Regions from separate parts of the Homo sapiens genome. Here all the other regions are linked to region 1. The links come from fine-mapping of genetic effects on gene expression. A gene starts in region 1. Each other region holds a variant in brackets. All regions are shown on one strand. Distances are from middle to middle. Region 1 holds the start of TSHZ3 (teashirt zinc finger homeobox 3). Region 2 has its middle 110 kb from the start of LINC01834. Region 3 has its middle 73 kb from the start of LINC01791. Region 4 overlaps TSHZ3 (teashirt zinc finger homeobox 3). Region 5 overlaps TSHZ3 (teashirt zinc finger homeobox 3).

Evidence for each region.
Region 2: its variant is fine-mapped to the expression of TSHZ3 in whole blood (TOPMed, PIP above 0.99).
Region 3: its variant is fine-mapped to the expression of TSHZ3 in whole blood (INTERVAL, PIP 0.97).
Region 4: its variant is fine-mapped to the expression of TSHZ3 in whole blood (TOPMed, PIP above 0.99).
Region 5: its variant is fine-mapped to the expression of TSHZ3 in whole blood (TOPMed, PIP above 0.99).

What each region holds. Positions count from the first base shown.
Region 1 is chr19:31,345,744-31,351,883 of GRCh38, forward strand. It overlaps TSHZ3 (teashirt zinc finger homeobox 3), which reads right to left and starts at 3,693. Exons shown (of 2, transcript NM_020856.4): 1 at 3,437-3,693. The coding sequence starts at 3,476. TSHZ3-AS1 (TSHZ3 antisense RNA 1) reads left to right here. Exons shown (of 3, transcript XR_002958388.2): 1 at 1-3,174.
Region 2 is chr19:31,013,621-31,019,760 of GRCh38, forward strand. No RefSeq gene overlaps it. Among named protein-coding and RNA genes, the nearest start is that of LINC01834, 110 kb to the left of the region's middle. The variant C/G (reference allele first, on the strand shown) is at 2,403.
Region 3 is chr19:31,091,385-31,097,524 of GRCh38, forward strand. No RefSeq gene overlaps it. Among named protein-coding and RNA genes, the nearest start is that of LINC01791, 73 kb to the right of the region's middle. RefSeq lists enhancers at 4,768-5,780, 4,893-5,392. The variant T/C (reference allele first, on the strand shown) is at 3,021.
Region 4 is chr19:31,314,071-31,320,210 of GRCh38, forward strand. The region is part of intron 1 of TSHZ3 (teashirt zinc finger homeobox 3); the gene reads right to left. Among named protein-coding and RNA genes, the nearest start is that of TSHZ3-AS1, 4.7 kb to the right of the region's middle. RefSeq lists an enhancer at 4,800-5,301. The variant C/A (reference allele first, on the strand shown) is at 2,493.
Region 5 is chr19:31,325,766-31,331,905 of GRCh38, forward strand. All of the region lies in intron 1 of TSHZ3 (teashirt zinc finger homeobox 3), which reads right to left. TSHZ3-AS1 (TSHZ3 antisense RNA 1) reads left to right here. Exons shown (of 3, transcript XR_002958388.2): 1 at 1-6,140. Among named protein-coding and RNA genes, the nearest start is that of TSHZ3-AS1, 7.0 kb to the left of the region's middle. The variant C/A (reference allele first, on the strand shown) is at 3,159.

The DNA of each region.
Region 1 (6,140 bases):
CCAGAAAATTAATATAAGTAAAATATCTGCTATTAAGTATTACACTAAAATTTTTCTGGCATTTTCAGAAATGTTTTTTAAAAACCACTCTGAACAGGAGAAAATCATGCTTTAAGCAGGGGATAATGGTCATTTTGCCTGAAGGACACTGTCCTTCCCTAACCCCACTCCTCTGAGCTTCTAAAAGCAGCAACATCTGTCCAGCACAAATGCACACCCCCTGGAAATTACAGGTCTCAAGGAAGCAAACTCCCGCCCAGGTTTCTCTTTGGCAGGTAAAGAAACCTCTCTTTCTCTTTGAGAAAAGACCCTAAGCCATACATAGTTTCTATCAAAACATCAAAAAATCCTAAAGTACAGAAATATGTATTTTCAGGGATTCTTGGAGCCTGCTTCGGCCTTCGGGAAAGCAATGATACATTGGCCTAGATATGAAGACCGTGTGTACCTGTGTGCCACGTCTGCTCGCCCTACCCAGCTCTTGGCCTTTTGTGGTTGTTATTCTACCCTAGACCATTAAAAGGGCCCTAATTCCTATGACATGATTATCCAGGTACCAAAGCCCATTTGTCACCTGCAGCAGAAAATTGAGTTAATGCACAACTAAAGGCAGCCAGGACTGTGTAATATCAACTTGATTACATCAAACTAGCTGCAAACCTAATTCTGCTGGATGACACTGCGTCGAGCTTGTCATCTCCAATCATTAAAGCTGTCAGGAATCCATCAGGTTTACAGCTAATTAGGTGAACACTAATGAAGCTGGCAAAACAACTTTTCTTTTTTTATGGCTGAGCGGACCTTTCAGTTTGGAGGGGAAAAAAATTCTCGAGTATTCTCAAGGTTGCTGGGGACTGGATTTCCAGTTACCAATCAGCAGACATCTTTCTTTTCCCCACTCTCTCTCTCTATCAGTACAAAGCAATCAATTTGTCATCACTCCCAGTATGCCACAAAAGCTGGCATGAACCTTATAACTTGCAGCTGGGAAAACTAAAAAAGAGGAGAAAAAAATGGGAAGTTTCTGGTCCATCCAAACAAACAAACCACCCCCAAAAAAAAAACCTCTGTGCATACTTATCACCAGCCTAAATGTGGAGTTTTTTTTTTTTCTCTCCACTCTTCTTAAATAAGTAGCTCTTCAGTCCGCCTCCACCCCCTCCTCCACATGTCCATTAGGCAGAGGCATTCTGATAAAGTAAATCCAAAACCCGAGTATGGGAAAGAAATAAAGCACTCATGCTGCCAGCTTCTGATTGACCATTAAGCTATTGATGAATGTGCCTGTCAGGAGAGAGACAATTAAATCAAATATGAAACAAAGTCGTTTTGACGGGTCATTTTGATAGAGCAAAACCATTCTTCCATCTCCTATTAGTCCTGCAGTCAAGTTTTTTATATAATGAATTTTTCTTAACTGACCTGAGATTTCCTGGCTGGCTTTCTTTAAAAAAAAAAAAAAAGTGTGAAAAGGTTAGTGAACAGGTTGCTCTAAAAATAAATAAATAAATAAATAAATAAAGCCAACAGCAGGTTCCCTCCTCCTCTGATATTTTTCTGGAGGAAGCTATCAAATACGAGTCTCAGATTGGCAGGGTGCAACCGAAGAGATGAACTAGAGAGAGAGTTCTGAACCAAATGTAAAGATGTAATCACATATGGTTCATTGGATGGAGGCACACACATACCTTAAAATGTGTATCCAAAAAGGAAAGAAAAAAAAAATTTCAAAGACTGGAAGAAGCCCAAGACATTCCTACTACTCAACTTTGTGAAGGATTCCTCCAAAGTTTCAGAGTTTATTTTGGGTAGATAAGCTCATTGCTTGAGCCTGGAATTTAAAGTAGAAGGTGGGACGGGCAAGAAGCAAGCTCCAGGAGGTTAACTAGGGAGGCGGCAAGCTCCCTACAATCACTCCTGGAATTTTCAAACTTTCTAAATTTGGGCAACACCGAGGACAGAGAGCAAAACCTGCATCCTAAGCCCCAAACCAACCCTGTTTTCTTCTGAGATTTTCTGAAGACACTGGCAGGCAAGTACATTTCTGGGAGAAGAGAGAATTATCATTCCTTCTCTGTGACCCCGTGTAAGGGGTCTGGAGTGCAGAGTGCAGCCAACGTGTGAGGTCCCCTGGCAGTGCCGGCTGGCATGATGGAAATTATGGGCACTCAGGGCACCATGGCTACAACGCCTTCCTCCAAGATGGGCACCAGCCAATGCCCTGACCCTACTCTCTGCCCTTCCCTCTTAACATCAAAAGAGAAGTAAAAGAAAGGAAGAGAAAAGAAAAGAAAGGAAGCCCCACTTAACCCTCCCCTTCAGGGAGCATCTGAACCTCTGCACATCTGAGTGTTACTCATATCAAAATACATCACGTCCATATGTGGTCCTCTCGGCAATCCGCCCCAAATCCCAAAGTTGCACTGACAGGGCCCTCCTGACGTCACAGAGCTTGGCCTCACTATTGCAAGTGATTTATTGATGTTTATTGGGAATGAATAGATCAAAGGCAGCAGCATGACGGGCGATCAATCAGTCATCAAATCAAGGATGGCAACGGGCCAGAAACCCTTCTTCCAGGCAACATGCCCCCAACCGACATTATTGCAAAATAATGTTATGTGTGTGGTTTTTGTTTTGTTTTCAATGATGCGTTTTCCAGAAAAGAAAAGAAAAAAATCGGCTCAGTCTTAACAGGAGTTGACACTCCCGGTTAAAGAAGAAGAAAAAAAAAAAAAAAGGAGGAACAAAAAAGTACTCAGACACGTCCCAGAACTAAGTGCTATGCGGAGATGAGGGTGGGAGCAGCAGTACAAGGAGGGGGTGGGGGCGAGGAAACACAAACAGGGGAGAAGGAAACGCCAGCATCTAACATGGACTTGACAGTCATCTGACAATACCCAGACCCTGTGCGCTCCGGGTTCCACCGCTGTGCCCAGTTTGGGCCCAAGAAATGAGGAATCAATCGTGTTAGTACTAAGGTGGCCGAGGGGACCGGCTCGCTCACTCGTTCGCGCTCCCTGGCTCGGCGGACACCAGGCAGTCCCCCGGCGGTCGGCCGCTCGGAGGACGCGGAAGATGTCCCGGGGAACTCAGGTGACCCCGCCCGCCACCCACAGAAAGAGCCAGGCCGGGGTTGCTTCCCATTCCCTCTGCAGCCGGAGAGCTGAGGAGGTAGGGACCTGGCGCGGCTCAGCGCGCTCCGCGAGCGGCTCCCCAAATGGGTGCGAGAGGGAAGAGGGCAGAGCGCGGCGGGGCGTCCGGGGGGCGCCCGGTACCCGAGGCGGGCGCACGCACCCAAACAGGAGAGCGGCGCCCGGAGTTACTCAGTGCGGGCAGAAGAGCGGGGCGAGGAGCGGGGTCGCGCCCGCTGGAGGCGCGGGGCGAGCGGAGGAAGAGGAGGAGGAGAGCAGAAGGAAGGGGAAGCGGCTCGTACCTGCTGCGCGCCGGGGCGCCTGCTGCTTCCTCCTCGGCATGATGCTTCTCCGGCGACTGCCACTGCCGCCGCCGCCGCCGCTGCCGGGCTGAGGACAGGGAGGGAGGGGGCGGCGGGCCCGCGGGGGGGCGAGGCGGGCCTGCTCTCAGCCTCCCCCCCGGAGAGCGGCCGCCCGCAGGATGCTGCTGCGCCCAGGCTCTCCGCGTCCCCCCCGCGCCGCGCTCCGCCGCGAACCCCGAACGTGCGGAGGGAAGAAGGAGGGCGGGCGAGGGAGGCTCGGGGAGGGAGGAGCACGGGGGGGAGGAGGAGGCAGAGGAGGAGGAGGTGGAGGAGGAGGAGGAGGACCGCGCTGCCGGCGGAATGGGAAGTTTGACAAATCGCTCCAGAGGCCAGAGGAGGAGGGGGCGGGGAGGAGCGGCGGCCCTGCCCCCCCCCGCCCCGTCCCCAGACGAGGTGCGCGGGGTTCGGGGCTGGGGGGCGGGGAGAGGGCGGGCAGAGCGGTGGGAGGAGGAGCGCGGGAGCGGCCCGGACCGGTACTGCCCCGGCCCCCGCCCCTAGGCCGGGGGTCACGGCATCCGGGGGGACGCGCAGCCGCCGCCGCGGCCCGGGGCTCGGCGGTCCAGTCTTCTGCCCGTGGCGCGGCTGGAGCGGCGGCGTCGGCAACAGGCAAGCTTAAAGGAAAAGGAGATGATCGTGTCAATCGCCCGCCCGCGGGGGCGCCGCGCCCCCGCCCCCGGCCCCAGGCCCGCGTGGGACCCCCGCCCCGCCAGCGAAAGGGGTGCCGCCCCTCCGCCTCCGCCCCGTGCGCACACGCGGGGGCGCGGCGCCAGCCCCGCCGAGCCCGTCCCGGGGCGCTCGTTACCCCCCACCCCTATTCCCACCCAGCGTTCGTCCCCAGCCACCCCCCAGCTGCCCCACCCGGCTCGCACTCCTCTCCACCCGCCGACTCCGGAGCCCCCAGCGTGGTCCCCGGGCCGGGGCTGGCGTCCCCCGGGGAAGCCAGAGCCCACGGGCAGGCCCCCTCCAGGGAGGAGGCGGGCGCGGGCCGGGGCGGGTGGGGGCAGCCCTCAGACCCCGCGCCACCCAGCTCCTCCCCCAGGACCCGCCGTAGCCACTTCCCCCAATTTTTTTTCCCCGGACAAACTTTCCTGGGCCCGTCCCGGGGGTCGGTGTGGGAGGGGGTTCCTTCAAGTTTCCTCTCCTGACTTTGGGATGATCAGGGTCCCTCCACCCCGCCCCTCGCCCCCGGGAGCCGGGCCGCGCCCCCCATCCACGGCGCGGGCCGATCCTAGGGCGGGACGGGGGCGGGAGAAGGAAACCGGGCTCCCCTGCCCATCCCCCGCCAGGGGCTCCCCCCGAGAGCCTAGGGGGCCGCCGCGCCGTGTCCCGCGCCCGGCCTGCCGGGGCTGCTGGACTAGAGGGATTGATTATTGATTGGTGATCGGGGTCGCTGAGGCTCCGGGCCGGCCCGGCCGACTGGCCGCGGCAAGAAGGAGCTGGCTGGGCGGCGTGGGCGGCGGGGCGACGCGGGCTCACTTACGGGCGGCGGTGAGGGCGCGGGTGGGCCGGAGCTCATGCGGGCGACCCCCGGGCGGCGGCGGCTGAGCGGGAGCCGGAGCCCGAGCGGCGCGGGCGGCGGCGCATCGATGCGCTGCGGGCTCGATTGCGTCTCCCTGGGCCAGCTCTCAGGCCGGGAATGGGGCGGCCGCGCCGGGGCCGGCTCCGGGCGCTGCCGGGCGGCGGCTGCTGGAGCGCGGGGGCGGCCTCCGGGCCCACTATCCCCGAGGCGGCCCTGCGCCCGGGCGCGCCGGCTGGGGCTCTGGCGCTCTCGCAGGCCCCGAGGCCGACAGTCCCGGCGAGGGCGGGCGCCCCGCGCTCCAGCACCGGCTGCCTGAGCGCTCCTGGAGCAGCAAACCCCAGACTTCTTCCTCCTTCTCTCCTTCCTTCCTTCCCCCTCCCCTTATCTTTTTCTTTTTTTAGTCTCTTTCTCCCTCTTTTTCTGCCCTGTGTCCTTTTTATTTTTTCTCTACGACTGTTTTTGCAAGTTTGTTTCAAAAGTTCACAGCATGCTTTCTTTTCTTTTAGACCGGGAGACAGTGATCTCACCCACACGGTAAGATCAAAAGTCTCCGCTCGCCCAGCCTGCGGGCTTGGGCTGGGTCCAGACGTCTCCCAGGATGCAGATGCGCCGCCGCTGGCCTCCCCGGCTATAAAGCCGCCTCCAGCGCCTTTCCGCGCGCAGGAGCGCTCGGAGTTGTGGGGTACGGACCCCAGGCGGGGCAGGGAGTCCGAGGCGGGCTGCGGCGGGGCTCTCGGGCTGGCGGACTCGGGGGCTGAGGCGCCGTGCGCGTTGGGTGCCCGCGGCCGCAGAGGCCAGAACCGCTACTCCTCCAGGCCGGGGAGACGCGGCCGTGGAGCGTGAAACGCTTCTTGCAAGCGAGGAAACGGTGAGTTGGCCGACACCGCCGGCGGCCTCACCATTCTGGTGGCCGCGCTGAGCTCCTGTCGCCTGGAGGCGGGTTGCGCCGCACGGGGTCAGCTCCCGCCGGCTCCCAGCTCACCTTCGAAGCTCCCACTTAGGCGCGCCCGGTGCGGCGTGTGCACAGCGCGGGGCGCCGCACACGGAAGCGTGTAGTTCTCCCTGGTCGCGCTTTTCTCCTCCTTTCCATCCCCTCGCTGTTCTTGCAAACCTCTGTTCCTTCGG
Region 2 (6,140 bases), 330 kb before region 1:
GGGTCATTGGAATGCCCTCTGCAGATCACTACTTCCTGTTTGCCTTTCCATGAGGCAGTGAACACTGCTGTGAAAAAGGTTCAAAGTGTTTCCTGACACACAAAGCCTCTAAAAGGCAATATTTTGATGATTTAAGTATAAATGATCAGAAACATGTGGATTTCATTTCCTTTAGAATACACTTGGGTATGAAAATTAACAGGAAACGTGCTTGGCAAAATACAACCTGGGTTTCCTCAAAGCCCTGAAGTGGTTTAAGATGTTCAGTGGATTTGAAGGGAAGGTAGCCTTCTCTCTGTACCTTCCCACCAGGCTTGCACTCGCCCACACATTAAATCTGGGCAGGATTTGCTACTGGTGTGGCCTTGACCTTGTTGAGAAAGGCAGGGAGGAAGAGAAACAGGAGAAAGAGGAGGGAGAGTCTGGGTAAGAAGTAGGCAGCTTTTCCTAACTGGTGCTGCCTTCCCAAGAGGGGGACCTGACCTCTTTCCTTGGAAACAGCCCTCAACAAGTCCCTACTGGGTCCTACCTGTCCTCAGGTGTCCAGCCATGCTTTGGCCCCCTCTGTCCCTTTCCCTGAGAAAAACCACTTGGAGTTACAGAAAGACATGGCACACTCCACAGAGAGGCTTCTTTCCATCTTTACCCGTGTTAAGATAAGGTTCATTCCATGATAGAGGTAGGCAGCTTCAGAGCTCCCAGAAGTCCCAGAGCACAAGGCAGTGAAAGATCCTGGTAGAGCAAGAGGAGATGGAGAAGGAGAACCTGAGGGCAGGAGAATGCTCTGGAGGGAGAGAGGAGAGAGGAGGAAAGGGAAGAATAAACGGAGTCAGAAAGGAAGGTAAGAGAGGGATAGGGAGACTAGAGAGGGAGAAAAGAAGGGAGGAAGGGTCGGGGGAGGGAAGAAGGGAGGAAGAGAAGAAAGAAGAGAAAAAAGAGGTGAGAGGGAAGGAGGAAGGGAGGGAGAGAAGGAGGGGAGACGGGAGAAAGGAAGAGCAGAAGGGAGGAATGAGGGAAGGCAGGCGTGAGGGAGAAAGGAAAGGAAGGAGAGGGAAGGAGAAAAGAAGGAAGGAAGAAAAAAAGGAGGGAGGGAGAGAAGAAGGGAGGGAGGAAAGGAGGGAGAGAGAAATGGGGGGAAAAGAAGAAAAGATTGGAGGGAAGGAGGAAGAGAGGAAGACAAGAAGGGATGGGAAAAGGGAGGGAGGGAGGAAGATAAAAAGAAAGGGAAAAGGGGAAAAAGGGAGAGGGAGAAAAGAAGGGAAAAAGGAGATATAGAAAAGAGAGGGAGGAAGAGAAGAATGGAGAGAGGAAGGAAGAATGGAGAGAGGAAGGAAGAAAGGAGAGAGAGGAGGGAAGGAGTAGAGCAGAATAGAGGGAAGAAGGATAGCAGGAGGGAGGGAGGAAGGAAGAAAAGAAAAGATGTGGGGAGAGAGACAGAGAGGAAGGAAGGAAAAGTGTGTGATGGCCGGTGGGAAGGGTAGACAAAGGATAGACACAGAGATAGGCAGTGGATTCCTGGTTAGGATTTCTGGCTCTCAAGTAATGTGCTTGTCAGCAAGAATGTCCAGAAATGCCCCTTTAACTGGGCGTACTGCAAAAAGTGTGAGAAGCATTCTGGGAGTGGGTGGGTTTCACGAACTGGGGTAGTCTTCCTCACTCTGCTTTTTTGTTTTAATCATCAGTCAGCAGAAATGTCTCCAGAGGCCTTGCTGCTTGCCCTGATTAATGAACTTCAGATCTTTCTGTGCCCTGGGGTTCTGCCCATCATGAGCACTGGGCGGGATCCTAACACCATCACTCCTGGGACCAGTTTTCATAAGTGGGCCTGCTAGGCATCTGCAGGCAGGGCTTGGCCACCTCCCAGGAGCCAGGCCCTGCTATGAGGTAGCCTGAGGACAGGACAGAGGACTGGACCACAAAGGCAGGGCTTTCCCTCCTGGGGACACACCCAGGACAGGAACACTTTTCCTGGTGGAACTGTGTGGGCAGAAGGGGCAACATGACCAGGGGGCAACTGGACCAGAAAGACAGGGCCAACAGGACCAGAAAGGCAGGGCTTACCCTCCTAAGGACACAGCCAGGACAGAAACACTTTTCCTGGTGGAGCTGTGTGGGCAGAAGGGGCAACATGATACCCTCAGTAATATGCCTGCCTGGGTCAAGATACAAGTGACTTGGTTTGGGGTTCCCCTAAAACAGAGCGCAAGATAAGGCTTTGAGGGCAAGGAGTTTATGTAGGGGGTGACCACAGGAAGCACAGAGAGGGTGGGGAGAAGTGAGACAGAGAAGGAAGAAAAGCCAATAAGGTCTTGTTAGTGAGGAAGTTACTGCAGTGGGCAACTGGGGCCCAACAGCACGGGTGTTCCTCTGGCAGACGCTATGAAGAATGCGCCTCAGATGGT[C/G]CCACAGAAAGATAAGGAGCTGAATGTGCATCCACCACATCCTGTCCCCTGCTGGTCAGGTGGCTCCTGTGGCTGTCACCTCCCTCACTCTCTGGTCCTCTCCCCAGCATGCTCCCTAGGCCAATGTAGTAAGTTATGAGCTTAAATGGGAACTATCTTCAAGCTGCTTCTAGAGTATGCTCAGTAGATCTTGGATCCCTTGGATAGGAATCTTGGCAGGGTCCCTATACCAGTCCCACCCTTGAGGAAAACATCGATACTTTGCCCAGATGAACAGGCTGAAAGCTGGTGAGTGAAGGGTGCCAAGTAGCAGAGGCCCATAATTGCACCTGTCCTGGCAAGAGATGAGCAATGAACAGTTTATCAAGCATCGCCCAGCATGCACCAAGCACTTATGGGCCCAGCACCCATTCAAGGGACTTTTGCTCCCTGGACTCCAGCCTCTTCTGCCCAAGGCAAGAGAGAAAGAACTGGAAAAATACCTTTGCTCTGGGCTTTGCATGGCCTGGATCAGGTTCACAGCTAATTAGAAGTAAATGTGAAGCACAATTATGTATGAACCTTCGGTGGCCAAATTCATGAAAGGAATAACGGGTATATGTTTCCTTTCTGTAGAATTTTAACAAACAAGTGGCATTGTCATCCATTATTTATCTTTTTTCAATTGCAGTGAATTGTTGCAGTGACAAATATCCAATTTCTGTATTTACAGAAAACTCACACATGTGTAGATCATGGTACAGTTTCATATTTACTGTATAAAGTACTGACTTGTTTTTTTAAATAGAGAAATTTGGTAATTATTGCTCTATTTCTTAAGATGTGAAAGATGATGCATAATAAATTGATAGGCCATTTCTTTTGTGCTCCCGTAAAAAAAATAGCCAGCCAGCTTCTCCTTGGAAATCGTGGCTCTTTATATTTGGGGAAACTTAACCTCTAGCAGGATGAGACACCTGGAGAGAACACACTCTAGGCACACAGCAGATGAGCAACAAATATATGTTTATAAAATTTGTTGGTTGACAGAGTCACGGAGAACTGGTATTGTTTTTAAATACCCCAGGCAGGGTTGAAGACACACCTTGAAATATACACTGCAGTCTTGGGCCCTTAGCATTGGATGACCACACAGTCATCACTTGTTCACATCTTCAACTTGGTTACAGTTTTGTGTAGGATTGTGAGAAAAAGGAGCTTGCAGGACTGAAGGTAAAAACCTGCACAGCATCGTAAGACAATCCTCCAAGCTGACTGAGCAACCATGGCTCTCTTACCCAGGCTTCTTGGCCTGGGAGAAATGAAGTGTATTAGTCCATTCTCACACTGCTAATACAGACATACCTGGGACTGGTTAATTTATAAAGGAAAGAGATTTAACTGACACCCAGTTCCAAAGGGCTGGGGAGGCCTCAGGAAATTTGCAATCATGGCAGAAGTGGAAGCAAACACATCCTTCTTCACATGGTGGCAGCAAGGAGAAGTGCCGAGCAAAAGGTGGAAAATCCACTTATAAAACCATCAGATCTTGTGAGAACTCACTAACTATCAGGAGAACAGAAAGATAGGGGTAACCACCCCCATGATTCAATTACTTACCACTGGGTCCCTTGCACAATATATGGGGATTATGGGAACTACAATTCAAGATGAGATTTGGGTGGGGACACAGCCAAACCATATCTGTACCTCCAATGTCGCTTCATTCATTCATCTGTTCTAATGGAATCTACTACAAAAGTCAGACGTGTTGATTGCTGAGGAGGCACAGCATTACACATGGCCTTGTTCTCCAGAGACTCAGGGCTTGGAGATCAAACATAGCCATGGACGGAAGCTAACAGTGGAACGTGTTCAGGATGATGGCAGAGTCTGAACCAATTGTACGTAGCAGGTGAGCAAAGGAAGGAGGGGCCATAAGGACCTTCAAGCTCTTGCCCATGAGCTGGCCTCTCTTCTTCTCTTATGTGATGTGTACTGACTAAGTGTGGCTCAGTGTAAGAGAAACAAGTAGATGTCAAAGTAACTTGTGTTAAAATGATTCCATCTATTTCAGGAGTCCAGTTGTCATTTCTAAGCCCTTGTTTACAGATGCTTTCTCTTGAGTCCAGTAACATGTGAATACTATATTCTGTGAGTTCTTGCTTTTAACCCCACTTCTCCTGAGTTCCCTACATTTGTAAAAAAGAAAAAAAAAAAGAAAAAAAAATCAAACTAATTAGATAACTGAACCACATGTACCTTCCCTACCCTGAAAAGAAAATTGAGCCTTCTGAACTTGTCATCCCTACTACCTCATCCCATACTCTCATTTTCTTCTTTACATTCTAGCAACAAATTTTCATATACGTACACAAAAACAAAACAAAACACAATAACAAACAAAAAATAATAATAAGAGTAAGAGAGAGTGCTTGAAGGGGCACCAGCTAGACCAAGTGTGTGGGCCTCCAATTTCTCAGAGTCTGGCTTGAACTACTTACAGAACAGAGGTCCTTGGGGATCACACTTGGGTCTGCCTGTGACTATAGAGCTCCCCAGGATATGAGCCCCGGACCAAAAACAGCCTTTTATATGAACCCATGGGCTCCACCATGAACCTGGTCCTAAAAATTAGCCTCTTGATTTTTTCTTTATTATTATCATTTTTTTTTTTTTTTTTACTGAGCAGCTGCTATCAATGACTTCTCAAGTTTTGCTTTCTGGTAACTACCATTCCAAAGCACTCTAAAAACCAATTTTACACTTAATAAATTTTAACTATTCAATATTTTTCATTTTAAAACTAAATAACAGACATTTAAAAGAGTATTTCTTTTTTAATGACACTCATGCCACTATTTTAGAAAGTCAGGTGACATTCACCATGCATTCCTATCTCCTTAACTGCCAAATACTCTATTAGTCAAGTTTGTTCATATTTACAAGATTTTTTTTTTGGATGTTTTACTGCTATCAGAAGATCTAACATCTGTTTCTCCAGGGATTCTCCATGTGTTCTGTAGTTTACAACAATTGAAACCACTGTTTTCGAAATACATTTGGATTAAACTCAATGTACTAAGACTCAATTTCACAGGGAGCCCCATGCACGCGTCTGGGGTTTTCTCTCATGTAATTTTTCCGAATGGTGAGACATTTGCTCTGGATTTAGGTGGGTGAGATAGAATAACAGTGGAGTTCAATGGAGTGCATGTGTAAAATAACGCTGTTAAAGGCCCAAGTGTGGGGAGGGTTTCTGGGAGTCCCTGTTTCTGCCTGGAGCACAACAGAAGAAAGAAAGCTCCTTTGACTTTGCTCTTTTGGGAACCACAGTGGCAGGGGCAAGTCCAGCACATCGCCTTGTGTCCTTCCCTGGCCATCAACAACACCGTCCATAGACCTTTCTGTGGTGATGGGAATGTTCTACATCTACACTTCCCAATATAGTGTTGCCACTGGTCTCTGGCAGCAATTTAGTGTTGAAATATGGCCAGTGAGACTGAGCAGCTGAGATTTTTATTTTATTTAATATTTTAAATTTAAATTTGAATTCTAATATCCATGCACGACTAGTGGCTATCTGTATTAGTTCTTTCTTGTGCTGCTAATAAAGAAATACCTGAGCCTGGGTAATTTATAAAAGAAAGAAGTTTAACTGACTTACAGTTCAGCATGGCTGGGGAAGCCTCAGGAAACTTACAATCCTGGTGGAAGAGGAAGCAAACACATCCTTTTCACATGGCGGCAGCAAGGAGA
Region 3 (6,140 bases), 250 kb before region 1:
ATCTAAATTAGGTAAATTAGAAATTTTTCAAAAAATGAAAATAAGTGTTTGAATCTCCAACTGCTTTTGAGAGGTTGGCAGTTGTGGCCAGTCATTTCTTCCTGGCAAAAGCTGGCTGAAGTTGAGCGGCACATGCTGGTATAGAAGGAGCTCCTGACCCTGGGTTCATGATGGACCCTGCCCAGACCCCCACACTTTGTGTAATTCCTGTCTGTCCAGGGAGCTGTCTGCAATGGTGGCCTCTGTCTTTCATCTGTGTGTGTTATTTTCACACTGAGTGAAAGTGAAACAAGTTCATTCATTCTTGTCCATGGATCCTTGCAAATCTCCAGCTCTGAAATCCTTTAATTCTAAGTCTTGTTCTTAAGGTGCCCAGGAACCACCAGCACTGGCCAGCCACACAGAAGGCAGTCCCTGCAACCTTGCTTAGTGACGGTGCTGAGCCCTCCACTTACCAGCTCCATTTATGAATGCTAGTATTTAAGGCCTGAGATCTTATTTTCAAATAAATTGCAGCACACCAAACTGAGTTTTGTTTTGGGAATTTGTGAGATTGTCTCAAGACTAGCCCCCTAATGTGGGGCCAAACAGCAAGGACAGAAAAAACATCAGGGTTCCACCGTCTCCCAGTCCCCCCAAAGCCCTGGACTATCTGAATGTGACAAAACTAACTTGTATTCTCAAATGTCCATCCTACACATCCCCAGCCCCTGTCTCACCTGTCAGTCTCTCTCAGTTAGTTTGCAAGGAACACAAAATTGTATATAGAGTCTGAAAGTGAATAGACTATGCCTTCATGGCATGGCCTTATTGGTGAAACCCCAAGGTCAAGAGGCAGGAGAACCCACAGCACCTCTGCAGGCAGGGATGCCTTCCTGAGGCTCAGTTTTGGAGACAGGCAGGCGCTTTATGGGGCCTGTTAGTGGGCACCATATACATCAGATGACTCAGTCCGCTGTGTTCCTCTTGATGCCGCTGAACTGCTTGCAAGACGATTTCTTTGAGCTTCCTTCCTCCCTTCGTCGAGCAGAGGGGGTAAGTCAGGGAACGCTTTTATGTGGCTGCTGCGTTTCCAAATGTTCCTCTATGATTGACAGCTCTGCATTCAGCTTCCCATTATGGCACCTGCAGATAATGAGATATCTTGAAACCGGAATTTCCAGCGCCTGAGCCTGCCAGGAATATTATCATCAGTGTTCTAGAAAGCCATTCCCGCTGCACACATGACCTCTACAAATTTGAAATGTCAAAACACAGCCAGGAGCTGAAACCAAGGCCACTCCAGTCCAAGTGGCTATTGGCTCTTGAATATACAGGAAGGAGTCCTCTATCTTGGGAGAATTATGGATTACCAGAAAATAGTGATCTTTTCATTAACCTATATGTATTTAGAATGTAGATAATGTCTGTCTTTTATCATTCGCATAGCCTGTGTGTGGGGGGACCTGAGAAATGAAGGCCTGGGCATTCCCCAGAGAATCCAGGACTCTTTGGGGGCTAACTCAGGCCATCAAATCTCCTCATCCTCAGTGGCAATCTGGGGCTTAATTTTGTAGACGTTATAGCCACCTAGACCTTGTTGTGTTATCAAAGAGGATAAAGGTAGAGGAAACTCAGTCCTACCTTTGGAATTGGAAGTTTAATCTTCTACTTGTTCATTTTCTTCTGTCTCTTTCACTTGGGCTACAAGCTTAGAGTCCTCAGCACAAGGGGGTTATGGGCTCACCTGTCTACTCAACTGAGCTTCTGGTCTGTGCCATTCACTATGTTGTGTGCTTAATATGAATTAGATATTTTAGGAGCTTGCTATATACAGACGGTGGCACTTGGTGAAGGATTTTGTTATCACCCTCAACAGGGAGAAGCAGAGGGTCAGGTGACTGATGGGGGGTAGAAGGAGGAAAAGGGTATTTGGAGAGCCTGCTCTTGGAGCTGGGCTACAAGGTTGGGTGGGATTTTCTTACAGGCATAAACTGATGAGAGTGAGGGTCATGGATTGACAGGTTTTACATGCAGATGGTTGCTCATGAACAAAGTCCTGTAGGTCTAGAAGTACATGGCACATCTTGGGGGCAGCAAGAGGTTGGGAGGGCCTGGATCACAGAGGGGCTGCACACAATGGGAGACCTGGCTAAAGAGGGCAAACAGGCCCTCCCAACAAAGGCCCGAGAGCCAGCAGGGCTGGGCCATTTCCCCAAAGTCTGAAGACTCGGAGTCTGTAGAAATGGCTCTTACAACCTTTATCTCTTTCTTCCTTTCCATGTTGTTGATAGGCCAGTCTTCCCTCCCTCTCCCCAGTTCTCCATCCACGGCAGAGTTGACCCTATAGCTAGGTTCTAAGGGCAGACACAGAAGCCACATGCGGCCACCTTCAAGAGCTCTTCATCGTTCCATCAGAGCGACTGGTTCAGGATGAACTATGACCCAAATTGGGCCACTGAGAATCAGCCTTGAGATTTTAGCTGGTGTCTTCATGAGCCAGGTCTGCTATTTCCACAGAGATTTCTAGGCAGGCAAAATAGAAGCTTGGCACTGCTGGTGGTCATCTTGCACTGCCTGGAGAAAGATGAGCTATGGATGTGCCAGTGTGGAGGAACGCAGAGCAGAGATGGGAAAGGTGGAGTTCTCCTGGTGTCATTCAGCACCTGACTTCAGCCATTTCTGAAGCCAGCTTCCATCCCTGGATTGTACCCTGGGAGATGATACATTTTTATTTATGTATTACTTGAAACAAGTTTTAGTTGAACTTCTGTCTCTTGAAACCACAAATAATCATAGTATGTGTAACAGCACGCATTGGCATAGCAAGTAGTCCTGTTCTCACCACAATGGCTTTGGGGATAACGCATTGGTACCTGATTGGATATTGAGATGAGGTATTGCACAAACAGTTGAAGGCTATGCATGCACATTTTTCTAGACACTTCACTACTTTTCTACTCACTTGGTCTCTCTCTAAGACCTCAGACCCTGCTGACAGGTGCAAAGACATCCACTCCATTCCCTCAGTGCAGATCTTC[T/C]AGGTGTCCACAAGAGAAGCCCATTAGGACCCCAAAACTCAGAGCTAGCAAAGCAGAAAACTCAGACCAGTTACTCCAAGTGGAGCTACACACTCAGGAGATCTCCGTGGACAGGTTCAGAATCCCACTGAAGACCCGGTCTAGCCCAGGTCAGCATGGGCAGACTCAGGAGTGGGAGCCTGCTCTGGGTGGAAGCCCAAGTGGTCCAGAGGTGTCCCCTGCAGGGGGGCCTCTAGCTAAACTGGGTGGGACCTCTTCCTCCTTCCTCTTGGAGGCTTTGGCTACATGGGGGAGTGAGCAATGGGCCTCCTGCTCCTCCGGGAAGCAGATATGGCTGAGGCCTGCCCTCCTCCAATGGGGCCTGGACAGCAGGCTTTTCTCAGCACATGAAGACAAATTCAGCCCAGAGGGTTTCTCTCCTGGTTAAGCTAAGGATATGAAGTTGGTCAGGGAGGACGAACCACATTCTTAAAAGGCATCCTGAATAAAATGGCTCAATAACCACAGAAGATTGGAAAATCATATTCCAGTGCCTCAGAACCCCCACCACACATGCACACATATATACACAGGCACACATACATATATGCACACACATGCACACATACATACACACATAGGCGCAAACATAGACATATATACACCTATAGACACATGTTCACACATACACACATGCACACACATATATGCATGCATACACATGAACATATAGACACACACATACACATGTAGACATAAACATAGACATACAGACACATATAGACACATATGCATGTACACGTATACAAACACACATGCATACGTGCACAAAGACACAGTGCACACACAGACACATACATAGACACATCTACACATATAGACACACACAAATATACACATAGACACATATACACATAGACAAACACACATATAGACACATATACACACATAGAAACAGACATACACACTGAGACACACATATACACACATACACACATAGACACACATACATTCATAGACACACACTTACACATATAGACACATCTATACACATACAGACACCACAAATATACACATAGACGCTATCCACACATAGACATGTAAACATACACACATAGACACACACAATACAAAGATACACACATACACATACTCACATAAAAACACACATGCATACACAAAGGCACAGAGACACACAGACACACACATAGACACACATACGGACACATACACACAGATACACAAACACACATATACACATGCACACAAACATACACAGAGACACGCACACACACACAGCCACACACAGAAACACATATAGACACAGGCACATAAAACACAAGTACACACAGATACACACTAACACCAATATCACACACACACATACACACACACTACTTTCTAAAGACTCGAAGGAGTCCTATCAGGGAAAATGCACACGACTTGTCTGTCAGGCCAGCTGGCCCTAACAATGGAGGCGTGTGTCCCCACTGAATAATTGACCTTACCCCAGGATCCCCAGAAAGCTTTTTTTTTTTTTTTTTTTTTTGTTTTTCTTTTCCTCCCAATAGCATCTGAGGACAAAGAGACACTTGCAGTAGCGGAACAGGCCTCTCCGGGTAAAATTAGAACTGTCTCTAGAAAGGTGCACGCATGTGCTCCAACATACAGCAAATAATTTATTGTCAGGTGCAATTCCCCTGCTTGAAGATCGGGTGGCTCTCTGGCCATCCACGCCAGACTGGAAAGCAGTGTCCCTAGTCCCCGGATCCTGTCCAGCTGAGCGTAGACGGCAGTAGCCAGGGACTGGCAGCACAGGCTGTGTGACCGGGGCAGGGCTGGGAGAGAAAATGGCCGCCCTGTCGCCAGGTCCTTCTGTGTGTGGCCCTGTCAGGAAGGAGCCGGAGCTCCGGCCGGGGCTGGCTGGCTCCCGCTAAGTACTAACGCCACGGTGGCGGTGGGGGACAGGAGATGAGAGACAGAACAGGGCAGCTGCAAATGGAAATCACCCTAGGGAAGGTTACAACTAGATAAAGTTTTCGACAATAAGATTCCAGAGACTGCTGACGGGAGCAAAGCTCCGTATTTTAGTCTCAGTACAAATTTGCTTCAATCTTATACAACTCCCATGCAGCATTGCCCACAGCTGCATGCTGTAAACAACAAACAAATCTATTTCCATCAGCCCTGCTGATGCCAGGAGAAAAGTGCCTGAGCAGAAGACATGCACAGATGCAAACCCTCACCTGAGCCTGGCGCTGCCCTCCATTTGGCCTCTCTAACTTAATATCGTTGTTACAAAGCTATTGGTCTCCTGGTAGCTAGCTGGCTCAACGCAGTGCCTCTTCTTCCAGCTAATCTGACAACTCCGATCCAAGAAGCATCAAGGGCCCAATTAAGAAGACACATCTTATCAAGGAGCTTATTTTGCATAACAGAATACAAATGACGAATAAAAATTTAATGTTTAATAACTTAGTACAAAGAGGGCTGTTGATATAGAATGCCTGGAATTTTTATGGAGGCTGTCAGACTTGTGATAAAACTGTTATATAGGAACACTTGGCAAAAAACAGCGTAGAATTTTTCAGTAATGGTGTGTGCATGATATTGCATTAATTCTTGATAGGGAACTAACTGTAAGCCAGTTTGAGTTTCAGTGTAAGATGGTGTGTGTGTGTGCGTGCGTGTGTGTGTGTGCATGCGCGTGTGTGTGTCGTGCTCTATCCAGAATGCTCTGAGGGTGTGGCTGGACATGCACCCATGCCTTTATGGAGGAGAATCAAAGTGCATTTTATTGAGGACTTTGCAGAGAAGTTGCTCAGTCCTGCATAAGACATCTGGGTGTGTCTTATCTAGAACAGAAATGGCAGGAAATGAGTGGGGTCACTTTCTGTAGTAACTATCCTGACACCAAGAGTTGGGCAGGATTCTTAAGGGTTGCTTGGGAGCATTGGAAATTCTCCATGACCTCTGTATGAGGGTGAGTGTGTGACACGGAGGAACAGTGTGTGGGAGGGTGCCTCGCTAGTCTCTGGTCTCCGAAATTTGATCCCTGGAAGCAGCTAATAGAGATATGCACAAAAATTCATGCCTGAGCTGGATACTTATCGACTCCGCAGAGCTTTCCTATTGCTTTAG
Region 4 (6,140 bases), 32 kb before region 1:
TGGGCTCACCGGATGCAATTGGAAGATGCTTGGTGGATGATGATGACATGATGACACAGGGTTGCCTCCCTTGTCCCCTAGACAACCAGAAAGGATGCCTCCTTCCGGCTTCTAAGGCCAGGACTAGAGGCCTTCTTTCCCTACAGTCTGCACGAGAGATGCTGAGGCCAGGCCCCAGCCATGCCAGCCTCCTTTGCCAAGCACTGCTACATGCAGGCAAGGGTGTTTCCAGAGCCATGGGAGAGAGAGCGGGCGGCAGGGAGGCATGGTCGGCCATCACTGCAATCCTGAGAAGCCACATGGGCAGCGGCCGGAACCGTGTCTCACCTGCACGGTGGGGCTCTGCCTGCACCCCTGCTTCTGCACAAGTCCATCCCAGCTATCTGGCTGCTCACCTCCTTCTGCCCAACCTTCTCAGGGCCGGGTTTCTGATGCATTGTGAATCATTTCTAATGACAGGATTTCACATCCCCTTGTGATACTACATTCTTGTGCATAACTTGTAATTTGAGTGATTGTGAATTGTTCCGAGTGCCAGATTCGTATTTTGCAATAGATCAGGGTTTTATTCATATGTGAGTGCATAATTTTGCCTCAAGATGCGTTAGATTACATTAATTAACTTTGTAGCCAGAATGGGAGAAATTAACCGTTTGGATGAACCTTGCTCTGTAATCACCGTCATTCTCAGACCCCTTGAGTGTCCACCTCCGGGGCTGTCTGGAAGAGCAGGCAGTGAAATAAAAAGAAGGGGAAGGAATTTGGGGGCACAGCTCCAGGGGAAGGCTCAGCTCATGGCCCCTGGGAGAAGCCAGGCTCCTGAGACACTGGAGGTGCTTACCTCTATGAGAAAGGACGACGGGTCCTATATCCCTCTGTGTGTTTCTTCTAAACTCTACAGATGCGTGCTGGACAGATAGAGAGCATGGGATGTAATCCCAAGCAGGGAATCCTGCCACCAGGGGTTGCTGCACTGGACACTTCTGTCCTGGGCACAGATCAAGGGAAGAAAGCAACTCTGCCAAGAGATGTCTATCACCTATGCTCTCCCCGAGCGGCCAGCAGAAATGTATGAGCTACCTGGAACAGATGCTGAAAGGCGCATTATTTGGAATATGACCAATCCAACTTTCCTTTCATGATATTTATTTTTTGTTTCTTTTTCTTTTCTCTTTCCCCTTCTCCTTCGAGGCTCACATCAGCCATCCAATTTACTGACAGTATTGACCTCTTATAGAGGAGATTCCCCCAGCCCCGCCCTGTCCCAAAGCGTCCCCGGTCTGTTCATCACTTGGGACTGATAAGTCCATTTCTCCTCCAAAGGGTGGAGCTTGGCTGGGGGTACTCAGGAAGCTCTACTCCTGGGGGCGGGGTGCTGGATACTGCCAGGTGGCAGGACACATCATATCAGAGCCAGGCCAGGCCGCAGCAGTGGGGCCCCTCCTGCCCTCTGCCAGGGAGCTGGGTGTGTGCGCCCTAGACTTCCCTCACTCGCCACCCAGCTTGGATGGGCAAAGCACTAAAAGGTAAATATGAGAAATACAATTGGAATTATGATAAACAGAAATAAAAAGGGGCTAAAATCAGAAAGGTTTTGTGAAAAGAAAAACGGCTGGCAATAAAGCTGAAAACAGCAGTGCTCCGAGGCAATTTAGACTGCAAAACACAAACCATTAAGTTTGTGCATTATCTTTTAATTTAATCTTGAATGATTTATAATCCATCACGCAAGGCTTCAACCATATCCAATTATTCTCTGCTGCTTGATTGACAAGAAAGGTGATTTATTAAGCTAATAAAAAGTGATGTGAGCTGAGCTCATATAAAAAATAACCAGCCGGACAAAGACTTTAAAGAGACATCGACCATTTTTTTTTCCCACAGAGAAGGGTTTAGTCACTTTTACCCATTCAGCACTAATCAAGTAGCAACTTGGGAGAGAGTGGCAAGGTGTAATAATTACTGCTATATAAAACTAGACTTGCACTTCGGGTGGGTGTGTAAGGAGAAGGAAATAAATATTAAAACAGATAGAAGAAGTCTGACGCCCCTAAGAGAGTCCAAAATGCAGGAGGATCTCAAAGTCTTCAGTGATGAAAGCAGCACCAACACCAGCAGCTTTGTTTTCAGGGAGGGAGGCAGGAGTTCCCTGCTACTTAAAATGCCTTTCCCATTTTCCAGGGGGAAATCTGCCTAAATCTCCCAAAGCCTGTTTGTGAGAACTCCATTGTGTTTTCTGCAGCAGTAACACTGGAATGCTTGTATGCATGAATTAAAGGGGAAGACGGCACCTCTAAAGTCATCTCCTGTAATTGTTTACCTAATGCTGCTCGGAGACTCTGGGGAAAAGGCAGGTTTGCAAGATGAAGTGGTGTGTACGAGGCCTCTCCTCATACACAACAGGATGCCACTTTAATGTCCAAGATGCTGGCGTGTTTCAGTGAGCACAGCACTTCAGGACTAATGATGCAATCAAGCCTCTTGCAATCAAA[C/A]AGCCTGGGCTGGGGAAATAGTGCTATTTGCGGCAGCCGCTGTGTCGTGTACTAAAATTTTCTGGAACAGAGAGGAAATAAGAAAGTAAAAAAGCAAAATTCTAAATTTTCATGGGGGAGAGGAGGGGCTGTTAGGGAAGGAAATGTTCAAGTGTCTGCTTTCCACCTCATGGAAAAGTGGGAAAAGCAGAGAGGGAAAGAATGGGGAGAGAGAGAGAGAAGGAGAAACAGGCAGAGAGAGACAGAAGCCAACCCCCGCCCCACCTCAGCTCACTGTACGCTGTGTCACTGAACAGTCTTTCTAGTCGTTTTCCCGTTTTATTTCTCAATTATTTGAGTCACATATGCTCCGGCCAAATATTCTCTGCTTGCTTTTATTTTCTACTGCAACCCATATTACCTACAGTATATTAAGCAATCTATAAGGGCCTGGCACCTTCTATCAATTTGAAGAAGATGATGCCAATGATTTGCAGAGGAATTACAACAAAGAAAGGACCACGGGAGTTGAAATTTAGTCGCAGGAGACTTTTTTCCAGGGACAAAATTCTCTTCTCCAGGATTTTTTTCATCCGTCAACAAAATCCAACGGGTTTTTCTTTTTACCAGCCTCCCTCCCCTCCAGCTCTCTGGGCATGCCCCCAGCCCCAGCCCCAGCCAGAGCCACAGCTGCCTAGGAGGGAAGCATTAAAACGCTGATATGCTGTAGTTTAATGCCCCAGCCATCTCTGGGCAGCTGTTCCAGCCGAGCCATGCCAGGGCCAGGGTGTGACCCACTGCAGCCACATCGGGACGATGGGGATGCTGAACAGTGCAGGCTCTTGATGGGGCAAGATGCAAAGAGCTGGGGGACCCTGGCTGCACCATACAACCCAGGACCTGCCAGGGATTCAGAAGCTCCCTGTGATGTCTCCTGGTCCTTATGTCCTCACCCCAAATTTACTGCCACACTGACCCTACTGGCCAAGCACAGCAAGGATCACAGAAGGCCTAAGGAACTCCCTGCTCAGACTCAAGACAAAGGAAGGAAACAGGCTGTGTAATTAAGGTGCACCAAGCCAGGTGTGAGGAGAACAGCAGGGTCTGGAGAGCAGGGCGCATCCCCAGACTGGCTGCAGCTGTCCCAAACGCCTGCCCCGCTGCTCCCAAGAAGGGGCGGCTTGTCATCATGCTTGGCTTTCATTAACTTTCCTTCCGGAAATCTGACCCGGACATCCGGGGTGGAAAGCATACAGAATCAAACTTCATTTATAAACTTTTCCCTCTGCATCTCTTTCACGCCTGGGTCCCAGGTGACCACGGAGCTCCTCCAGGCACCTCCCACCCCTGGTAAAAGGGCCCAGCCGTATTGACTCATTTGTGTGTGAACATTCGGCTGCAGGACTGTAAAAGCTCCCTTTACCAAAATCAATTCAAAGATTCAAAACAATCTATTGAAGAGTTTTGCAGCTAGCTTTTAAACCACTTATAAAAGACAACACACAGGAAAAATTAACCCCTGTGGCTCTATTAGGAACAGTATAATAAATATACATTTAAAAGATCTATAAACACATATTTATCTGCAAAATGTTCTTGCATAAAACTGTTATTGAAAAGGCTTTCATTTTATCTTTGTGTTATTGTAATTTTATTGAATTGCTTATTCATTCTTTGATATTGTATTTTAATGGTATTATAAATCTGTTTTATGTCTGATAGGAGCCTCATTGTAAACTGATATAACAGATAATATGGCAATTCACCATAAAAATTCTAAACCAAAAATGCAGATCGGAACGCAAAGAAGCACTTTAATTCATTCTCGGTTTCTTTTCATTTTATTTTTTAATTATTTTTCATGTGCTGGTTGCCATCTGTTGATAAAGGATGGTTGTGTGAAACTCACTGTACAACACAATAGGAACTTTTTTGTATAATTCTATTCATAAAAAATGATAACAGTATAAAAGCATTACACTTCTCTAGACTGAGGATCATTAGCAAGTTCATTGTATAAACTGATTTAAATTAGTCACTTCTGGAACAAAATCCTTTTTTTGTAAAATATCTTATTTTGGGTAATTTTTAGTATCATGAATAAAAGAACAAAAAAAACCACTTTCTAAAATGTCTCCTATTATTTTTATCCTTTTATTAAAAACAATGAAAAACAATTATGATAAAAGATGGTATCAACATGTATAGCAATTATGTCATAAGCCCAACTATGGCTCAGAAACTTCGCAGGAAGTTCATTCAATAAAAGTATCTTAACTTGCCATCTCTAAATGATGAGATTTCCATTATCAGGAACAAACGATCCGGTCACCAATACTGTGGCAAACACCTAGTCCCAAGAGCAGGGCTTTATAGCAGCTCTGGTGCCTCCTCATGGGCTCCTCCCATGGCCCAGACAATCCTACCACCCTGGTGCCATGGCTAAAAGCAGCTCATTAATCTCAGCTCTGTCTGATCAAGGATCCTCTGAGCCGGAGACCAGGGACCTGAGAAGTTGCTTTTCCTGGGTGAGTACATCTGAATATAAAAAGCAGGCGTCAAAACTGTCTCCTGTTAAAAGCCACCTAGTTCATTCCCCTATAGAGAAAAACAACAGGACTTAAGGAAAGTGTGGATCCCCACCTCACAACTTAGCAACACTGCAGAAACAAGCAGGCTATGAATAGCACCTGCCAAGACGGCTGGCTCAGCTGCAGATAAAAAGAAGAACGTTGTCAACACAAAAGCCTTCTATTACAAAATAGAGAAAAGTAGGTTTTCCTTCTTTAAGAATTTTGCACATAAATCATTGTTTCCAATAAACATTGTAAAGGTTTCATCAGTAATTTTTTTTAAAAAAAGCTACTCATATATATGAAGATCACTTGGTGAGACACAAACAATTAAGCCACACTGAAGAAGTGAAAATGGCTGAAACCCTAAGGTGAGCATATCCAGGTCTGCACAGCAAAACCCAGCCACAACCTGGGCTTCTCCCCTGAGCCCCAGCCCACCACTGAGGGAGACTGATGTCTCTGCAGGACTGAGAGGCAGGCCCTGAGGAAACCCGGGCTCACCCACCATGAGCTCATAGCCCCTCAAAGCATCACCAGGCAGAAAGTTTCTACTAGAACACTGAAGAGGGACAAATAACCACCATGACAACGGTAATCACAAAGAAAACAACAGTGTAACACCTTTTGTCGCCCTCAAAAGCACAAACATCACTGAAACAAGTTTTCTTTCTACTTAAGCTGCTTTGAAAAAAAAAGGCTGCTACTAGGGGCAGGAAGGCAGGCTTCATTAGCTGAATGACATATATGGACTCTTAAGATGCAGCCCCCCTGAGAAAGTAGCAATCGGCCCTTCCTTCCTAATTCTTTCCAACACACACGCAGTTGATAGAAGTGATGGAGAGTTTCTTGCCAAATCATCCTAAACTAGGACGTAACCGCTACAGCCTGGCTCAAAAACCAGAGCTTAGAGCTGCAGATGACCTGACGTATTAGGGAGCTCACACCCTGAAACATTTTCTCGGGTTACATCTGATCTATACAGAAACAGATGAAATATACATGTAGGTTCTTAAGTATAATAACCAAACAAATGCCTGTGAACAAGGACCCAACTTGAGAATGACAACATGACCACGGGGCTTCTCCACCGCTC
Region 5 (6,140 bases), 20 kb before region 1:
AGACTAGAAGCAACCAGAATGTCCATGCAGAGGGTAACTCATTCACTAGAGTCAAACGTGGCCCTTAAAAAGTATAAGGCAGCTCTGTGCAACAAAATATGGTAGGATATAGCAGCTGAAACCTAACATGATATAAGATGATGACTGAGATACATAGATTTGCCACCATTTTATTATGTACAATGTAATATACACAGCAAAGTTTAAAGAATTTTGCCTGTACACCCATCACCTAGTTTAAAACTTTAACATTCCGCTTTATTTGCTTTATCACATATATACCCATCATTCCATGTATCTTAACTTTTGGATGCATGTCAAAGTAAACTGCAGATATCCAAAGTATATTCTTAGACAAAAACAGGTACAACATGGAGTGTAAAGTGTGGATTTCTCATTTAAAATATTTAAAATATACTTTTAATTTAATGGCAAAACTGCAATTACTTTTGCACCAACATAAATATCTAGAAGACTATACTACAAACTGGTATCGGTGCTTGCCCCTAGGGAGAAGAACTGAGGAGCTGGGGTTAGAAGAAGACTCTCTTTTAACTGCATACCCTTTGATTCTCTTGAATATTGCATTATGGACATCATTTTGTTTAATTTAAAGAATGACAATGCATCCACTTTCATGAGAGAAAGCTACTGTCAAATCTTTCAGGGCTCTAGGTAGCTTCTGTAGAGCAGCCCTGCATGCTTAGAAGCCTGGCGCGTGTGTGTGCATGTGCACACGTGCCTGCGTGTGTCTGTGTGTGCATGAGCACGCGTACACACCCACACCCAGATGCTCGGAGCCTGCACAGTGAGGGTGGTGCTGACCTCCCCTCATCTATCGCTGTAAGTCACTTTCTCATGGGGCTGAAACCTCGGAGTGTGAAGCAACCATCTTCAGGAGGCTCATTATTTAATTTCCAAGTAAGCAGCTGCAAAAGACAGCATGTTTGTTGCTGTTAGGGAGAACGGAGCACATGGAAGACAGGAGGGAAAGGCAGTTCCTCTGCTCAGGGTAGCTCTGCACTGCGAGTGCCCATGTCTCAGTCTCCCTTACTGTAAACATTTGTGCAACTTCAAATAAATATCCTCCCCAAGTCTCACGCAGCCTTCGGCTCTGATGGAAACCCTATGTGTGCCCCAGTGTGCCAGTGTGCACAGGCCAGAGAAGCATGCAAATACAGGGGAGAAGTCCAGCTCCATGTGAGGAACGCCAGAGAAGGCATCCTGGAGAGAAGTGAGCAGTCCAGAATGTAGACTCTCCTTCCTTACAGCACTCAGCCAGGCTACTGAAAGGCAGCAGCTTTCTGTTTCATTAAAAAAAAAACCAGCAGAGGAGTAAAAAGCCCTTAGAAAAAACATAGAATTAAACATGATCATGAGAACAGTACTGTAAGCCAAACCTTCAAAGGAAAAAAGAATATTCCACGGCATTACTGGATGTGTTCGACCAATTCCCTTCTTCCCTGAGACCTGTAGCTCGAGGTTCTAGACTTTGAGCCTCTGGGCTACCGCTGCACATTTTTGAACAGCGATCAATTTCCTTGTGTGTTTTAAACCCTGGGAATCATATTCTACATGTGAGAGATAGTAAAATAGATTTTAAAAATTGAGGTAACTGAATATGTGGAGTTATGTCAACATGTCAGAATAAATACCTGAAATCCTTACTTTTCTACATATGAAAGGGATCTGATATCTAATGAGAGGGAAGGAAAATGCACTTTGTTAGCATTCTGCTTTATTCTTGAAAACATGCATATAAGGCTAGTTTTAAAAATCCCTCTGATAAGAATAAGACTGTGAGAACACTGATTTCCACTAGGTGATACACATATGTACCATACATATACATACATATGTAAGAATACATATATGTACACACAATACACGTATACACGCATATAAATATACAGTGTATATGTAACTGAGCCAGGCAGTATACTTAAAGGCAATAATATGATAGTATGAAGGCAATTTGTATCTTACCACATATTGAAATAAAACACCCTGCACAGCCCCTAAACCTCAAAATCCAATACACAAAATGAAACGAATTGCACTGGGAAAAAAAATAAAGAAATGAGAAAATGAACTACGATATTCTCTTATTTGTTTAGTGTTCTCTTTCTCTAGAGTTTACATGGACATTGTCTCTAGTTGCATCTGCAAACCAATACATCGGCTGTCAGATCACTAAGGCATTTGACAACATCATTCTAGAGCCTTTAGTTACTGAGATATCAATAATTAAATGCATTCAGTTCACACTTTGTTCTTGCAGATACCAGCTATTTATCTCTGTCCTCTGAAGAAGCTAATGGTATAATGGGCAAAACATCAAGAATAATTAAGAAAAACGTTGCTACAAACTCTGTCAGAAGAAATATAACTTTTGCCCAGGCCCCCAGCTAGAATTCATTTATACAAGATCCACCCAAAACCAAGGCACCTTTGCTGAAAAGCGAAGTGCTAGGCTCATGGAGCAGGGAACTCACTCACTCTGTCCACCTGAGGGGAAGACCAGTGGGCACTTCTCTGAGTGTGAGCCTTGAAAAGCCTTGGGTGTGTGCATATAGCATCAGCTATAAAACAGCGGGGACTGCGGGCCACGTTGGCACCTCTCCCACACCAGGGATGGGCTCTGGAAGGCCAGCCCAGGCTGACAAATGGCAGCAGGACTGACTTGCTTCAGTGGACTGGCCCCTGCTGATGGAGCCCAACCTTCCTGCAGGCCATTCACCTCCCAGCTGAGCCATCCATGTTTCAAAGCTTGTTTGCAGCATTAGCTGGTACCAAAACAGAAGTTCTGAGAACATCTTATTCAAGGAATGGCGGGTTAAATCTTAACAGGTCTATTTTTCTTTAGTAGAGAGTGTCTCTCTCCTTTCATATCCAATAACAAATAAGAAGAGAGAAACTGTGAGGTGTTTTCTTCTTTAGGTAAGGGTCAGGCCTAGATGGTATATAAACTCCAAACAGATTATATTTTAAGTTGGTGACAATTAATTACAATACCGTATACATACTGCAGATAACACAATTTAAGATTAAAGAATTATCTGGAGCCATAGTAATGGGAGATGACTTTGAAGAGGCAGCCTTCCAGATAAGCCATGTCACATATCTGCATATCCTTTCAAACATCTTTGTCACCTAAG[C/A]GGGAGTGGCTCCCAATCACTGTTCACCAATCTCACTTGCGGAAGAGTTGGTAGTCAACTTCCTGTACAGGGGCCGTGTGAGCTCCTGGATGTCTACCTTAAACTTCAAAGAGCCACATTTACAGAAAATGAAATGCTCACATTTCATCATTAAATTACACTAGGCTCCCAATCTTCATGCGGCACATGTATTGCACTGAAAACGGATATTTGTTATTAATGACAAAGATATGGAAAATGTGAAGTTGAAATAAGCTACCCAAACTTAAGAGAAAGAAATGTTACAGGAACTGCTTTGTCAACCCTAATTGTGTAATTACTTCTTGGCTTGGTCACCCAAGCTCCGAGCAAGAAATAAGAGACAATGGTAATTTCTTACTACTGAAATGAAGGTGTCACGCTGCCTTGTGCATTCTGTGTAAGCAGGGCTAAAGTTTACATTTATATCACGTTACCTCCATTACAATCATCCAGGCCACTGCAAGAACTTAGTGGTATAAGGTCAGCCCTGGCAATGGGCACGCTCAAGTTTACTTGCACAAACATTTAATTTAGGCAGAGTGGAGGCATCTCTGCTTTTGGTCATCATCTTACCCCTCACCTCACACCGGTGAAATTGGTGAACTGCTACTGGCAACTTGCAGACTCACAGCAATAAAATAGTGTTTTTAAATGGTGCTAATACAGTGGCTACCAATAAAAATGAACCACTAGATGGCTTTAGATTTTTCACTTCTGAATATCGGAAGATGCATTATTTATGGTGTCAAAGCTAAACCTGGGTACAGCACTTGGGAGTGGGGGTGTTTGTGGAGAGAGAGGCAGGAACACCGCCCTGTGTAACTCCATCCCTTTCTCTCTTCACTCCACAGTTCCCCTTATAGCTCGATAATTAATTACAAGGCCGCATAATTCTATCTTCAGTCCCATCAGCGTTGGGTCAACTAAGAGCAAGGATCACATGCCAAAATTGTTGTGTGTTTTTTTTCCACACCAAGTATGAACCACTCCTCATTCTAATGGAAAAAAGAGCGCAGACACACAACTAGGAAGAGAAAAAAATGAAATTCCATTATAACTGGTTTCCTCAAGCTCCAGCCTAGGATATGAGTAATCATAAAAACTGTAATATCAGCTTTTTTGTTTTCCTTAACACTGGGTTCCTACTTTATTTCCTTTCAAAGAGGGTCAAGATCCTTTTTTTTTTTTTAATTCATAAAAGCTGCTGTGTGATAACCAAAAGGTTGGTTTCTCTCTGTAATAGCTCTGCCTTCCGTGATACTTTTAAATTTGGGGGCAAAAATAAAACTCGCTAAACTCTCAACAGCTGCCCTGAGTGAACTTGAAGCCCCTCACCTGCCTGGCCCTCAGGCCTTCTGGAAACATCTAACGCCTAGCAGGGGTGGAGCAGTGAGCTGACCGGCAGGCATGGACCAGGAGCTGCTAGCACAGGCCTCGGGAGGTGGCCTCCGGGCTGCTTGGCCGTACCTTGAGGACTGGCCTGACGGCTCCCAATGCCCGAGCTCCCATGTGAAGTGCAGGGAGGAGCAGGTCAGTGGCCACAGCAGCCTGGCCTGGCCTGGGTCACACCCTCGGTCAGCATCGCCCCAATGTCACTCTCTAGTTCTGTTTTCTCCTCCCTACCCACTCCCACCTTAACCAGCCACAGGGAATGGCGGGGTGCAAAATGGAGGCTGTTGACCTGCTGTGTGATCCACACCTCCCTCTGGGCTCAAAACATCAATGTGCTTTTAACAAGGAGCCAAGTGCTGTTTAATCCTTGGGCGGGGGGAGGAAAGTCCAGAACACCTATGGGTCATGAAGCAGCCCACGCTGAGAAGGCGACCCCAGACCCCAGACGGAGGTGTCAGGAGCTTGTTTTCCCAGCACTTCCTGTTGGCAGGGTCACAGCTCTACCGAGAGAAGGTGGGCCGTACCCCAGGGCACAGGAATCAGCATTGACATGCCCAAAAACTGACATGCATGCTTGTCCCCCACAGGCACGGGCATGTCCCCAGTCACCATGGTGGCAGAAGGACAATGGGAAACGCAGGGCCTGCCAGGCAAATTCTAGCAAAGACGGGCTTCCTAAAATCTCCCTTCTACATGAGAGCTGCCCAACCCAACGGCAGAGTTATGACTCACCGAAAGGGATACCCCCTCCTTCCCTCTAAGGACTGAAGGAGGGAAACGGCGCATGTAACCCTGGCCTAAGAGAGACCCCCGGGCTGAACCAAAGCATCAGAGATTCAGAGGGCACGCGGGGAATGTGGACAGAGCGACACCAGGCCTTCCTGAGCTCACCTGTACCAGAGCCTCAGGAAACATGTCTGTAAAACCGCTCTCATAGTAAGCACTTTATTATCTACTTTTGGCGCAGTGATGAGTTAAAGGGGCATTAATTTTCTTTCATAGCCTGGAATAGCTTATTTATCATTTTTTTTGTCTTTGTCACTGATATTTCAGATCTGCTGCGAATTGCTGTTTTTTTGTTTTGTTCTGTTTTGTTACTGTTGTTTAATTAATCTGCACTCATACAACCACCAAAACAATCACGGTCCTACTGGTACCAGCAGATGTGGCCGAAATGTGCCCTGAAACTTCCCAACTGCAGCTCGACCCTGCTTGCAGTGCTGTGTCATAACGAAGGGAAGTCAACTCAAGATGCATTTTCTGGAAATGCCATGGACGCACAGAGAGAAGAAACTACAAATAGTGTTGCAAGGAAGGAGGCCAGCGGCTGCATTCACTGTGTCACTGCGGCCAAGGTTTCTGGGTACCTTATGTTCACCACCTGCCACCTACTGTGGTGTCAGAGCTGTCTGGTCCAGCCGGGACAGTCAATTGATTTTCACAGAACGTCCATTTTATGTTTCCACACCAGAGCACGCTGCACCTTCGTAAGGAGGGGTGGCTGCTTCTAAGGGCAGAGCGGCTGGGCCCCAGCCAAGCCTGCCTCCCTGACTGCAGAAGATGTCACCT